Linked DNA regions of Homo sapiens: all the other regions are linked to region 3. Evidence: fine-mapped expression QTL. A gene starts in region 3. Each other region holds a variant in brackets. All regions are shown on one strand. Distances are from middle to middle. Region 1 overlaps PZP (PZP alpha-2-macroglobulin like). Region 2 overlaps PZP (PZP alpha-2-macroglobulin like). Region 3 holds the start of PZP (PZP alpha-2-macroglobulin like).

Region 1 (5,234 bases), 47 kb before region 3:
GCCCTGCATCACCGTGGGACTCCTCAGAGTCCACACCAGCAAGAAGACTCTCAACTAGATGCGGCCCCTAGACTTTTGACTTATCAGCCTTCATAGCTATAAGAAATAAATTTCTTTTCTTTATAAATTACCTAGTTTCAGGTATTCTGTTATAAGCAACAGAAAATGGACTAAGACAGGTAATCTATGTGCACGTTCTGAACTCATAGTTGAAACTCAGAATAGATTTTCTTTCTTACCAAGTGTTGCCCTGGTTCCTGCCATATCGTTCCCCAAAGGTGCTGTAGGAGCCATCTTGGTGTTTGTAGTTCAGCTGTCTCTGGTAACCTGAAATGGAAGGCTTCAGATTGTTCATGAAGCATTAAAGAAAGGCAGGCCATCCATATGTTTAGGCTCATGCATCCAGGCGCCATGGACATTTTATGACCTTCTGTGATCTGCCATAGTTTTGTGAATGTTATGGATAGATCAAACACAACATCCTATTAGAGTGTGGGAAGATTGTTGTTTTCATAAAAATTATCATCATGGGTTAATATTTGATGATATAACTGAAGCTTAATTGGGAAAAGTTTCATTAGAGTAACAAAGTAAATTTTTCTCTGTCTCACTTACCAGTGATGAGATAGCCAACGGCCTTGGCCTTGATCTCCTGCGTCAGCTGCTGGGTTTCATTCAGATAGTTCAAGACATAGATGTTAGGAGCAAATAGGACCATGTTCTGTTCTCCACAGCCATATGGCATCTGGAGGAGATTTTGTATATTTTGCATAGCAGAACCTAATATGTCACCTGGGGAATGTGAAAGATTAGATGTCAGAATAATTTCAGTTCATAAATAGCCAACATTATTAACAAAAATGGCCTTTATATTCAGAGTCTATCATTTAGGTAAGAGAAAAGTTATATACACAGAGTGTGACTTCCAGAATCCTAATAAGAATAGCAGCTATCGCCTGTAATCCCAGCACTTTGGGAGGCCGAGGCGGGCGGATCATGAGGTCAGGATATCGAGACCATCCTGGTGAACACGGTGAAACCCCGTCTCTACTAAAAATACAAAAAAATTAGCCGGGCGTGGTGGCGGGCGCCTGTAGTCCCAGCTACTCGGGAGGCTGAGGCAGGAGAATGGCGTGAACCCAGGAGGCGGAGCTTGCAGTGAGCCGAGATCACGTCACTGTACTCCAGCCTGGGCGACAGAGCGAGACTCCATCTCAAAAAAATAAAAAAGAATAGCAGCTATCAAGAACTTGATAATTCAAATACAAATACGTAGATAAGATGTACAGTGGCAACTCTTTTGGCCCAGGTTTACTAAATGGAAGGTGACTCACCCAGAACTGAGAAAGAAGCTCTGGCAGATTCTTTGACCACATTTGATGGGAGCTTCAAGGACAACTGCTCAGACACATTAGCACCTTTAGAAACAGACAGCCCATGTTAAAGGAGGACATCTATGATTACAATATAATTTAGTGATTATAATGTAGTGAGAGCTTCAGAGCCACACTCCCTGGATATGGTACTGGCCCTGCTTTGTGACCTTGGGTAAATTGTGATGATTTGAGGAAAAAACACATGTAAAACATTCAGAACAGTATCTGCAACATATTCAATTTCAACGAATGTGAGCAATTGTTATTATTGCAGTTATTTTATTATTAGAGTTAGCAGTAATATTATTATATCTCCTTGTGGAACTCTGGGTGCAAGGAATAAGAATTTGACTTAATGATGAGACTACCTTTGATAGTCTAATTGCTTTTGGCACTGTGTGACTTCCAGAGTCCTTCCTCTTCTCATTTAACTATATTTTTGCATGGCTGTGCTCAGTAGCTTTCTAAAAGAAGCCTAAGACTTAGTGGGGGAACTATCGCTCTCCACTTTTGTAGCAATATTAAGACTTATAACCATGATAATACAAGTTATTTTACTGCCTCCCTTACACTATATTTGAATGGATTCCCATGTTTATAAATAGATAACATGAATATACCTTAAATTAGTCCTTCTCAAATGACAAATACAGTGCTGTATACACTGTGGACATAGAACTAATAATGTGGCGGTTCTGTATAAAAGCTACAACTACTTCTTAATGATATGATGAACTTAAATGTAAATTATTTTCTACACGGAAAACACACATTTTTAGTGAGATGGGTAGGAAATGCTATATGTTTTGTCAGCAGCTGTTTTAGAGACTATCTCTTGGGATTCAAACTTATCATGACCCTGCTGTCTTTAGTTTTTGTTGTTGTTGTTGTTTGCTTGTTTGTTTTTTTAAGAGTCTCACTCTGTTGCCCAGGTTGGAGCGCAGTGGTGTGATTTCGGCTCACTGCAACCTCCCCCTGCCCGGCTCAAGCGATTCTCGTGCCCCAGCCCCCCATGTAGCTGGGACTACAGG[C/T]GCCCGCCACCAGGCCTGGCTAATTTTTGTTTTTTTCGTAGAGACAGGGTTTCACCATGTTGGCCAGGCTGTTCTCAAACCCCTGACCTCAAGTCATCCTCCCGCCTCAGCCTCCCAAAATGCTGGGATTACAAATGTGAGCCACCACACCCGGCTAACCCTGCTCTCTTTCTACCTCATCCTGGGACACTCTAAGCTTCTGCAGCTGGGCTTGTCAGTGAGCAGCCACTGGGCTATCCAGGTAAAAGGGCTACGTATGAACCAAGAAAGCCCAGGTATTAGTCCTGTCTGTACCACCTGAGTCACATTAACTTGCTCTCTTGGGCTCAATGTCTTCATCTGTAAAACATACATAAAGAAATATTTAGTATTATGCTGACTTTCATGGAACACTCTGAAAACTGGGAGATAAAATGAATGTGCATTGTAACTTGAGGTTTATACCCCTTTGTGGTTTTGATCTCACTATGATTATGAAGATGGACTCTTACCTGAGGCACAGGTCATAGAACTGAAAGTCTTTTCTTGCTCAATACCTTCAGCCTTGGATGAAAGGAAAGAAAAGGAGAAAAGATAGAAACATCCTGGTGACAAGAGAACCACATGGATTCCTTTCTTTGATGGGTAGGGTTTACACGAATGATGTTTACCATCCTACTCTTTTTTTCCCAACTTTTGTTTTAAGTTCAAGGGGACATGTGCAGGAGGTGCAGGTTTGTTACATAGGTAAATGTGTGCCATGGTGGTTTGCTGCACAGATCATCCCATCACCTAGGGATTAAGCCCAGCATCCACTAGCTATTCTTCCTGATGCTCTCCCTTCTGTCACTCCCACTCTCAGACAGGCCCCATATATGTTGCTCGCCTCCATGTGTCTATGTGTTTGCATCATTCAGCTCCCACTTATAAGTGAGAACATAACATCCTACTTGTTATTGAATTATTACAAATCCATAAAACATTGAAGAACCAGGGAGGGTGGTAGAGAGAAAATGGGAAGAGATAATAAGGGCAGTAAATCAAAGCTAATGGGTATGAGAGATATGTGAATCTTAGGAGAGAGGTGGAGATCAAGAAATTGCGCTCAATGTAATCCCAGCACTTTGGGAGGCCGAGAAGGGAGGATCACGAGGTCAGGAGATTGAGACCATCCTGGCTAACATGGTGAAACCCCGTCTCTACTAAAAATACAAAAAAAAAAAAAAAAAAATTAGCCAGGCGCCTGTAGTCCCAGCTACTCGGGAGGCTGAGGCAGGAGAATGGCATGAACCCGGGAGGCAGAGCTTTCAGTGAGCCGAGATCGCAACACTGCACTTCAGCCTGTGCAACAGAGCAAAACTCCGTCTCAAAAAAAAAAAAGGAAATTGCACTCAAATAATTTGTGAAAAAAAATTTACAATAGCTGGCAATGTTGTCTGCTGCAATGCTTTTAGGGCAGGAAATTCCATTAGTCTTACAGGATGTATTGTGTGAGCATGATATTAATGGTTCTTTGTTGTCTCAAGAGTGACCGCCCGGTGTTGCATTCTTACAGTTGTTAGGGACTCCCAAAAATATGTTACCTCCACCAACAGGGTTTTGATGACTGTGTCTTTTCTTTTAATCTCAGGGACCTCAACAACCTCATTTCCACAGAGTTCTAAGGACTGCATTGCCTCTGCACTCACTGAGAAGTTCACATTCCCTAAAACAAGGAATATTGAAAACATGAGTATCCACTTTGATAGTCCAATCACCTTTAAGGGCTGCACCTTAAACTTATAGTTGTCCAGAATAGAAAATAAGGCTAAAAAAAAAGAAACCCACAAGGTTAATGTATACTAAGTAGCCAATGTCCAAGATAGTGATTCTGGGGACTAGCTTGGGTGAGAACAGTGGGAGGAGGTCATAGTGGATAGAAATAGGAAAAAAAACTAACTTTATAGAATTATATCTATGGCAAATAAAAGAGAGAATATGATGAAAAAAGTACTCAGACAGCCACCGTCCTTGTTGATTGATAGGCCCTTTTGGGTACTGTCACTCACCCAGAGTTTTAGGAGTCACTGTCCAAGACAAGGTTTGTCTCTCATTTCCACAGATACAATAGGATTCTTCTCCCTTTGTATTTTGGGAAGCTAGGAAGGCTGGAGAGGCTTTCAGCTGCACACTGACCTATCACCCCATGTGAGGCAGAGACAGAAATGATCAGAATATGGAACGACACGAACACATAGAATTGGGGCCAAGTGTGAGATGCTGCAGTAAATTGGGATTTGTAAGAAAAATGTATGTCACATAGATTCATCCATGCTTTAAGAAGCATGGCAATGGCAATGATACAAATCAAGATTGGTTGTGTATTAGGAGGATTTGGCATTTGCCTTAGGGTAGCTTGTGGACGTGCAGGCTTGGCAGTGGCAGAGGAAAGGGAAAAGCAGTGATTGTATATTGCCCTAGGGAATACTATCTGCTGCTATGTAGATTTTCATAGTTTCTTCCTTCCTTTCTTCTCCTATTTCTTACAACATATATTACATGTCTAATCCATACAAGACATAAAACACTGGGAATGGTAGATGAGAGGCTCCCGATCTTGAGGATATTGTGTCACAAGAAAGATGATCTATATACAACCACTATTACATAATTTACAAAGAGATAAGTGCTATAAGATAAATTAAAATTATATATTTTGGAGATTTCAAGATGACGGGTTGGAGAATGACTCTCGTGGAACTGAGAAAGCTGAGTTGTGTGTCAGCTTCAAGAATGTTCCTGGCATATAACCTAACTTGCAGCAAAGAATTCTGCAAGCGCTAAGAAATAGAAAAGCAAGGTGTGGCTT
Region 2 (5,234 bases), 26 kb before region 3:
TGGTGCGCAAGGTAATTTACAGATTCAATGCCATCCCCATCAAGCTACCAATGACTTTCTTCACAGAATTGGAAAAAACTACTTTAAAGTTCATATGGAACCAAAAAAGAGCCCGCATCGCCAAGGCAATCCTAAGCCAAAAGAACAAAGCTGGAGGCATCACACTACCTGACTTCAAACTATACTATAAGGCTACAGTAACCAAAAGAGCATGGTACTGGTACCAAAACAGAGATATAGATCAATGGAACAGAACAGAGCCCTCAGAAATAACTCTGCATATCTACAACTATCTGATCTTCGACAAACCTGAGAAAAACAAGCAATGGGGAAAGGATTCCCTATTTAATAAATGGTGCTGGGAAAACTGGCTAGCCATATGTAGAAAGCTGAAACTGGATCCCTTCCTTACACATTATACAAAAATCAATTCAAGATGGATTAAAGACTTAAATGTTAGACCTAAAACCATAAAAACCCTAGAAGAAAACCTAGGCATCACCATTCAGGACATAGGCATGGGTAAGGACTTCATGTCCAAAACACCAAAAGCAATGGCAACAAAAGACAAAATTGACAAATGGGATCTAATTAAACTAAAGAGCTTCTGCACAGCAAAAGAAACTACCATCAGAGTGAACAGGCAACCTACAAAATGGGAGAAAATTTTCGCAACCTACTCATCTGACAAAGGGCTAATAGAGGCTTCTTGATCTGAGCCTCTGGAATGGCCCTTCCTGGTCCCCAAGGCCACTGGAAACTCACTGAGGACACAGAGAGCTCAGCCTCAGGCTTCATGAGCAGCACACTTTGGTCCACAGCACGAAGGGCACAGAGGGACTGCGGAGCAGCTGCTACTTGCAGGTGGGCATGTGAGGCTGGGGGACTTTGTGCTGGGCTGAAGCTCAAATCCACCTGTGGGAAATGAAGGAAACGTCAACCAGTGTTTTCCCTACTTCTGTGATCTTGCAGTCACCTGCATTTCCTAAGCCACCCTTATATTCAGTTCATATGACTATGTTGGTAATGTCAGTCAGAAACCTATTTTTACAACTTTCCTTCACTTTAAAAATAGAAAATAATTTGTAAATCACTTATTACCACTTTCACAGATCCCAACAACTCTAGAGACATAAATAGTTAGATCTGTTAAAAGGTACATGACTTCCCTTATGTTTGCAAGTATTAATTTTATAACAAGCTTACCTACTCCAGTGATCAAAAGTGATTCTATTTAGACAGGATCCAAATTATCTAATGCTTTGGCGACACATTAATTTACTCACTCTTTTAAACATGACTATTACATAAGTGGGGAATCTTAACAAAATATAGCTTCTCGGTAGCTTAGTCTTGTCCTAAGGAGATAACTGAGGCAGAATAAGGATAGATACCTTGTTAGATTTTTAGATGGCCATCTTTATCTCTGACACATGATAAGGTAATTCTAGGTGTTTACACTTATTCTTCAGGTTTTGGGAACTTTTGAGTCTTAGCATTTTACATACTCACACAACTGAATCAGCAGAGAAGAGCATCATGAACACAAAACTGATTGTATTTTATTTGGTAGCAGCTTTGTGTAATTGAAAAAGTGCTGTACTAGATCCCTAGAAATTTGGGTCTGCCATAAACTTGTTGGGAACTGTTGGGCAACTCATTTTACTTTTCTGGACTTAGTTTTCTCTGGGGTAAAATAGATGGCACCTACAGTATCATTTATTTGTGTTCTTTTAATTTTATGTTAAATCGCTCACCTTGTTGGCTAGACAGTTTTCAATCTCAAATTTTTCAGAGTCTCCAACAACTTCTCCATCTGGTAAAATGGCAAAGATGAACATTCGTGCAATGGGGGCAACGTCTGACTCCACAGGGAAGGATAAGGCAAAACTGCCTTTCACTGGAACATGGAGAGAGTGAGACAAAATGGTCATAAGTGAGACAAAAAGGTCATAAAAATAGTGTCATAAGGACACTATTGCTTGGTCTTATCCACTTGAGAACTGCGTCCATTCATTCTAATGGCTTAGTCTCTCTATGTGCCATTAGTTATTTGGTGAAATTAGTAGGCCAATGTCTCCCTTCAGAACTTTAATTATAGCAGAAGTTAACAAAGTTCCTTTCACTCACATCTTTTTTATTTGATATTCCACTTAACTGTTGCCTAAATCAATTAAATATCAGTAGCTCCAAATTTTCTGCATATATATGTGACAACTATTTTATTTACATTTCAGACTAGAGGTGATTCTCAATTTAAATATAGAGCTATAATTTGTAAGATATAATAAGTTTATTTTGTCATATATGACTTTTAAAAAGCTCTGTATGTAAAAAAAAGTTCATACTAATTGAACTTCCTAAAAGAATATTTAATTCTTGGAGTTTTCATTGCAGTGTTAAACTCTTATAAGTACATTGGTATATTTCTACTGGAAGCATTAAATGGTACCAGATAACACTTCAGAAAATACTTTACATTTTAAAGCAGGGTGAAGGGCCACCAGGTAGCTACAAAAGGGCAA[C/G]AACAAAAGTTCCATTTTCTGAATGGTCCACTGGGGACTTGAGTAGATGGCCCACATTTAGTTGAATAACGGTAATTATAAAACCACGAGAGACTTAATGACTGAAAAGTTTCTGAGATGCCTGTACATAAAGGACAGATACTCTCTGGTATTATTTCCATGTCTTCCTTTTCTCTACATCCCTCCTGTCCCAGATTCCCAGCTATATGGCTTTAAATTCCTGTGCTTCCAAGTTCTTTTCCAGTAACATATTCTTGGTGCAGTTAGACAATACATAGGATAACAGAGTCTCTCGACATTGTTGAAACTCAAAATAATGTAGGACAAGGACAATTAGAATTGTAGAAGAACTATAATTGATTTTATTTTTTTCTTAACCATATGTATTAAAAATTAAGTCTAATACCCTTAGGAATATTTTACAAAGTATAATATCAGGATGAACAAGGCTAGCTATCTAACACACAACATGAAGACTGTAGTTAATAAAATGGTACTATATTTTAGATTTTTGTCAAATGAGTGCATTTTAGCTGTTCTTGCCACACATACACAAATGAGTAAGTAGGTGAGATGATGGCCATGTTACTTTCCATCACTATAGTAGTCATTTTATTATCTATATGTGTCCCATAACGTTATGTTGTACACCTTAAATAAATGTAATTTTTTTTTGAGACAGGGTCTTGCTCTGTTGCCCAGGCTGAAATGCAGTGGTGCAATCATAGCTCACTGCAGCCTCGAATTTCTGGGCTCAAGTGATTGTACTGCCTCAGCCTCCCCAGTAGCTGGGACTATAGGTGCACAACACCACGTTTGGCTAATTTTTTATATATTTTTGTAGAGATAGGATCTTGCTATGTAGCCCAGGCTGGTCCCAAACTCCTCGGTTCAAGCAATCCTCCCAAAATGCTGCAATTACAGGCAGCAGCCAATGTGCCCGGCCAAAATTTACTTTTTTAAAATGATTATATTAAAGCCTGAGATTGGTGGCACTCAATTAAAAATTGTTATAACTCTACGTAGAATGTGGAATTTTTCCAACTTCATGCAAATTTGACTTTAGCTTAACATTACTTATTTTATATCACTATGTGTTTATACTGCAAAGCTCTTAAGTTTGGGAAGAAAGGAAGCTTAAAATATCCTTAAGGCAGTGTTATGCCATTCATATTTGTGTTCAGTTGGACAGATCAAGTTTTAGCTCAGACCTCAAAAAGGAAATAAGCTCCCCTTCTAAAAGGAAGGAAGCCCTTTTATCACTGTCTTGAGTTCAACAAGGAAAGTGGGGTAGATTGAAATGTCATAAAACCAGAAAAAAAATTATGGTGACTTTATGGCAAAGAATAGTGGTAGGAAATTAAAGCTTTTAATAATAAAATTTGCCAACACATGTGTGTGTGTGCACCCTGCCTTGCCACTGCTGGCAGCGTGAGTGTCCTCCATCACCCCTACTCCTACCACACAGCCACTGACATCAGAGCATTGGCAGGCACTAAGCTCGCCAACCCCACCCCTGCCAGCACCCTGCCCCTGCAATGGAGCTGCCAGTGCAAAACTAGGCACAAAACACACAAACCCACCCCTAGCCATGTACAGACACTGCCACCAGTATGAATGCACACAAAAGGTTCATACAGTCCTGCACCCACCAGTGCCCCACCCCCATGCTAACACCACCGTCAGTGCAAATGCATGCACAGTTGCTAGTGGGGATCCCCCAATCCCCTGAGTCATACTGCCATGATCATTGCTATGAATGCCTGCACAAAGGCCAGCAACCTGGCACCTGCTAGCACCCTGCCACAGCTGATGAGCGTGTACCCCACCACGCTGCCACTGCCATGCTGCTGGTACATGTGAATGAGGAGGGATCCCACTGCTACCATCCTGCAAAGTGCTTTGGCTGACATCACCCATGGAAGTGTTGTGACCAGTGGTCTGGGAGCACCTTGGTCCCTTCAGTGCAACATGTTCTTAACCTCAAGGAGCCAGAGAACAAAGCTGGAGCCAGATACCAGTTCCCCAGAGTTACAGCATGCAATCCAGGAGTCCTGAACTGAGCCTTGCTCCTCCCTGCCTCCACTGCCCCCAAATCTTCTGGTAACAAAGTCAGTTGACTGAACTCACCTTATACCACAATCAAACCTCCAAGGTCATCGAATAGGATAAAAGGAAAAAATCAAAACAACAGCAGTTTCTAAGAGTGAAGGAACATCAGCCCGCAAAGATGAGAAAGAACCAGCACAAGAACTCTGACAACTCAAAGAGCCAGAGCATCTTCTTTCCTCCAAACAATCACACCAGTTCTCCAGCAAGGGTTCTTAATAGGGCTGAGATGGCTGAAATGACAGAAATAGAATTCAGACTATGGATAGGAATGAAGGTCATTGAGATTCAGGAGAATGTTGAAACCTAATCTAAGGAAGCTAAGAATCACAATAAAATGATGCAGAAGCTGACAGACAAAATAGCCAGTATAGAAAAGAACATAACCAACCTGACAGAGCTGAACAACAGTCTACAAGAATTTCGTAATGCAATCACAAGTATTAACAGCAGAACAGACCAAGCTGAGGAAAGAATCTCAGAGCCACAAAATTGACTTTCTGCAATACAACAGTCAGACAAGAATAAAGAAAGAAGAATGAAAAGGAATAAACAAAACCTCTGAGAAATCTGGGATTATTTATGTAAAAAGACTGAATC
Region 3 (5,234 bases):
AATGTTTTAATATATGTTTACTCAATCATGAATGTTTGCATTTTAAATATTTGCCTCTTTAGCAGGGACTAAATGTAGCAAATATTAAAGTGATAACTTTTAATTTTCTCTTTTTCATTTTATTCCCCTGAAACCTTCATCTTTCTGAAGCTTACTGCCCCAAGGCAGGGGAGAATGGCTATTGGTTCTCTTTTGTAGTCTCTCACATTTATCACATCAAGGGTTAATTCTGGAGGGATGAAGTTAAGTTTTCTCCTTATAAAGGGAGAAAACACCCCTTCTGCTTGTGACAACTAGGGCATGAGGCTTGTTGTTCTTTGTTCAGTGGCAGACACAACGTAAAAGGATGGTTTCAATGGCAGCATGGTCCAATGTAGTGTAGGAATGCATCCAGAACCACAAATTGCTTAATGTTTCTGACCCAATACACGCTACTCGCTTTATCCATTCAGTCTGCTCTCAGAAAGCAAAATAGCCTCCACATATTCCCATATGCTTTCTGGATGGAGAGCAGCTGGAAGTAGTAGAGCCCACTGCTGTAGATGAGGTAGAGGGATAGTGGGGGAGAAATGTACCCCTACCGGTTGCCAGGAAATTGTGCAAGGAAAAAGCCTGAGGAAAGCAGGAGACTTACTGGATTGAACTCCTTATTTCTGCTTTCTGCGCTTTGGCCTGAAGAAGGCTATTTGTGTTAGATGGATAAGGGTAACACACAGAGCAGAGGGACCCCTTATCCCTTTCCCGATTTGGGACTCTGAAGACTTCCCTGTATCAGTCTGGAATACAGGAGACACGATAGGCATCTAGAAGTGCAGTGTGGGTATGCAAGAGAGAGGTAGAAGTTTAACCTCTCCAGGACACCTCAGTGCCTATGTGCTATTATTGGACCCAAGAGTTCTCACCATTCTCTGGAAGAAATGTAAAGGCAGCTGGGTTAAGGCCAGGGACCTTAAATGGCCTGGACTGCAAAGGGGCAAGGTGACCCTGCATCACAGGCTGTGTTGAAACAATAGCCATAGTATTTGAGGCAGGATGCAAAGGTAGGAGTTCTATGGGATATGAAACAGCTGAAGTGAGACAGTCAGTTAGAGAGGACTGTTGGGTCCTGAACACACAAGAGAAACCAGATGGCTAAACTTCAACAGTGCATGCCAGCAAGTAAGGAGAAGTCAGACTGACAGTAGCCAAGAAGGACGGAGAACTTTGAGACCAAGGACTCTGACAGTTTTCTCTATTAGGAGTTAATGGAGACCACAGTTCTCTAGACACTATAGAGGAGAGGAACTGGGGAGAGGTGGAAAAGAAGTCTTACAATTATTGAGTTGTACCAACTTACAACTGGATAGGGTTAAAATTATTTTCCCTGCTTTGGTCCCCCACTGGGGGCTGTTGGTGAAGACTTGATACATGATTGAAAAATAAAGGAGCTATACTTTCTGTATATATATATATGGCCTACAATACATGTTAAGTTGCACTTCACTATATATTTCGAATATCTCTATATTCAGTGCCTTCCATCCAAAAGAACTGTTCTGTGAAGTTGGGATCTAGTGTTTTATTTAATCATGCTTCCTAGTGACTAATCGTATTTATGACTCTGATTGGCCCAGTGTAGAAAAAATGATTTCAAGAATAGAGGATAAATGAAAGACAAACAAGGGATTAACTGGAATAATTTCTTATATTTGGAAGGTATTGTAATGAGTGGAAAGGTGGCATTTACAAAGGAAGGCAAAGCGAAGACACAAGGGAGAGACTGAAACGCACTCTGGAGGAAGGGGTCTTGAGTGAGACTTACGGTTCTGTAGAGTTTGAGTCACTGGCAGAAAGCAGGATAAGAAGTAGCACAAGACATAAATGAAGAAGTCTGTCTTTCCGCATTGTGAGGGATAAATCTCAGGGTTGTGTCCAACTCTCTGCCCTCAGCCTCGCCCTGGAGACCAGCTGAGTTTACCAGGCTTTATGTGGCCACTATGTACAAACAAGCCCCACCCCAAGGCCTCTGAATAGAGTTCAGAATTGAGCACAGATTCCCTAAAAGGGTCATTACTCTCAGTGGTTGCCTCATTTTTCTCAAGGCTAAATTCTGATAGGTACTGAGGCATGTCTGGAAGATAAAATTTGTATTCCATTTAGAATGAGCTTTGACAGCAAACCTCCTGATAAGGAACCTTCAACCTACCTTTCTCCATCTCTTTCAAAATCCTTACAAGCAGGTGACAAAGGATGCTGACAAAGAATGTCAGGGACATGTTACCATGATAGTAGCTCATGCATTGCAGATTCATTTCTGGGACTGAGTGAGTTATAACTATAGACTTTAGGGTTTTTGGGTTTTCTTTTTTAGCAGTTGATTGAGTACATGGTCCTGGAAGAAAGTGATATAAAATAAGGATTTCAAGAGTAGAGGATCAATGAAAGATAAAAGAGATAAAAGATCAAAGAGATTTTAGAAAGGAGTTATCAAAGATCACACTTGTCTATTTCACAGCATTGACCTGATCAGATTCTTAGTTGATCCTATCTGTCCTTGTTACTGTCTGAGCACTCTAACGTTTGAGTCCCTTAAACCATGTCATTGACTTTATCTGAGATTTTTTTTTTGAGCCATACTGTGTGCTAAGTGCTATTCTGGTGATGAAAATACAATATTGAACAGGATATTCAGTATCCATGCTCTCATAGAACTTGTAGTACAATGATGATCACATATAAACCACCAGCAGATTTAATGCCATCCTTAGACTGCAGACATTGGTGTCTGTTTACATACTGTATTGCTTGAAACTTTTTAAATCAACTTTCTTTCTCTTTCTCCATATTTCAGCCTAATCATCCCTTCTTTGGAGAGCAAATTCCTGGCCACACTGCTGAAAGTGGATTCCTTCCTATTAGTTTTTATTTCACATCTTTGTTTCTTTTGTCACATTATCATAGAATGAAATAATTTCTTTTAAATTATGAAATGTTATATATATATATACTCACAAATATAGAGAGCAAGATAAAAGACACTCGTACCTTACATGCACCCAACTTTAATAAAATTAAACACTTGCCAAGTTTGTTTAAGGTCATTTCTTCTTAAGAAATGAAAGATGGCAATGGTAGTGCTCTTTTAAAATTTGTCTAGAAGCTTTTCCAGTTTTTACCAGATCCACCAACCCAAAAAAAGAAATAAATCAAGACAAATATGGTTGGAGTTTCCTTTGTAATTCTCTCCAATCTCATTTCCCTTCCAATGTTGTGGGATTAGGAAGTTGATATGTATTCTTCAAGATGTGTTTATGTTTTTAATCCATATTTATGTAAATAATATATAGCATAATTTTGTGTTTTGTATTTTATATGTATAAGTGGTATGCACATATTGTAAAATATGTCATCACTATTATGGTTTTAAGACTTATTAGCATTGATAATGAGGATAAAATTTATTAATTTTAATGACCATCTATACGACATTCTATTGTATGAATGTGGCCGAACCTGTTACTCTATTCCCCTAGTGCTGAATTTTGGATTCTTCATAGTTTTCAACATTACAAATAATACTGCTACAAATACGGTATGTCTACTTAAGCATATTTGCAAGACTTTCTCTAGGGTATATAGCAGAGATTGGGTTATAGGCTATATATGTATGTACATCTTGAAATCTATCAGATTGGTAAATTGCTCTTCAGAGTATTACATGGATTTGAATACCCATCTGCAACAGTGGATATTTTCAGTTTATTATATATTTACCATCGTTTTACTCTGCTAGGCATTTTACTTTTTATCAATCTGATGAGTGAAGCAGTATCTTGCCTTAATTTTCATTATTAATGACTTTACACATCTTTTCATATGTTTATGGACCATTTGAATTCTACCATCAGTTTGATATCTCAACACAATATGTAAAGGGTCTATCAGGAACATCTCCTTGCCCCAGTTTCATGAGCCTTGGACTCTAGACGCTGCAATTTTATTTACTAAAGGCTTTAAAATGTGCTTCTAAATCTCTCAGCCAAATATTCTGGAGCTGTTAAATACCCTAAGGGGAAAGTGCCCTTAAACACAGAATTGCCCCTTTGGGTTGCTATGTTGCTTCTGAACTTTGGATTCATAATTCTTCACAGTCTTTGCTTTTCAATACCTCCAGTGAATATATATATAACCAACCATTCCTAATTTAAGTGGGAAGTTTGGTCTCAATTACCTTGTATACCATTACTGGAAAGGAAAGTCTTAAGTGTGTATTTTTATTTTATATAAAGAGTATTGGAAAAAGACCTTGCCTGTTTCTTATTCTTTTTAGTTATTGCTAGTTTTAAAACATCCTCCCATGTTTATATGTTTATATGTATGTATTTTATTAATTGCATTTTATTACAGTATAGCCCTCTTTGGTGATCATCCAAGAGGTTTAATGTTTCCACTCTCCTAATGATAAAAACAGGATTGTCTCTATTGTCCTGCCATGAGGAAATAATGCTTTGATAAATATCTTTTTACATATACCCTTTGAGACAGGTAAATCCTCTTGCAAGACGCATACACAGGAGTGAGATTGTTGTATGAGAGGCATGTACTTAAGTGACTAAATAGTGACAAATAACTCTCCAGAATGGTTGCATCACACCACAATTCTACCAGTAGTGCATGAGGATTTTCGTATCCCCATATTGCCACCAATACTCTAGCTTTTACATTTTTCTTCCAGTATTCCTTTAAATAAGCTTTCTGCTCATTTCCCTCTTTTCTCCTTCTAGGACTCCCATAATATGTGTATTTGCATGCTTGATGGTATTCCATAGGTCCCTTATACTTTCTTCACTCTTCTTTAATTTTTTTTCTTTTTTCACCTTTAATTAACTATTTACATGACCTGTCTTCAAGTTACTAATTCTTTCTTTTGTGTGACTGTGTTTGCTGTTGAAGCTCTCCATTAAAATATTCAGTTCTGTTCTTATATAATTTTTGTGTGTTTTTTCTTAATGGTTTCTATTTCTTTATTAAACTTCTCATTTTGTTCATACATTGTTTTTCTAATTTTATTTAGTTGTCTATCTGTGTTTTCTTGCATCTTACTGAGCATCTTTAAGATGATTATTTTGAATTTTGGGGGGAAATTTGTAGATCTCCATTTGGGGTGGAGATTAGTTACTGGAACTTCATTGGTTTCCTTTGGTGGTATTATGTTTGCCTGGTTCATCATTATCTGTGTAACTTTGCATTGGTTT

Evidence for each region. PIP is the estimated chance that this variant, and not a neighbour inherited with it, causes the effect. A credible set is the group of variants that fine-mapping cannot tell apart.
Region 1: its variant is the best candidate, but not a certain one, in a credible set for the expression of PZP in testis (GTEx, PIP 0.60).
Region 2: its variant is the best candidate, but not a certain one, in a credible set for the expression of PZP in nasal epithelium (TOPMed, PIP 0.83).

Annotation. Positions count from the first base shown.
Region 1 is chr12:9,159,699-9,164,932 of GRCh38, forward strand. PZP (PZP alpha-2-macroglobulin like) reads right to left here. Exons shown (of 36, transcript NM_002864.3): 20 at 4,435-4,561; 21 at 3,970-4,091; 22 at 2,899-2,950; 23 at 1,335-1,418; 24 at 616-792; 25 at 240-327. It also overlaps a transcript of KLRG1 not described here. Among named protein-coding and RNA genes, the nearest start is that of PZP, 46 kb to the right of the region's middle. The variant C/T (reference allele first, on the strand shown) is at 2,408.
Region 2 is chr12:9,180,218-9,185,451 of GRCh38, forward strand. It overlaps PZP (PZP alpha-2-macroglobulin like), which reads right to left. Exons shown (of 36, transcript NM_002864.3): 14 at 1,758-1,900; 15 at 766-915. It also overlaps a transcript of KLRG1 not described here. Among named protein-coding and RNA genes, the nearest start is that of PZP, 26 kb to the right of the region's middle. The variant C/G (reference allele first, on the strand shown) is at 2,526.
Region 3 is chr12:9,206,458-9,211,691 of GRCh38, forward strand. PZP (PZP alpha-2-macroglobulin like) reads right to left here and starts at 1,938. Exons shown (of 36, transcript NM_002864.3): 1 at 1,802-1,938. The coding sequence starts at 1,884. It also overlaps a transcript of KLRG1 not described here.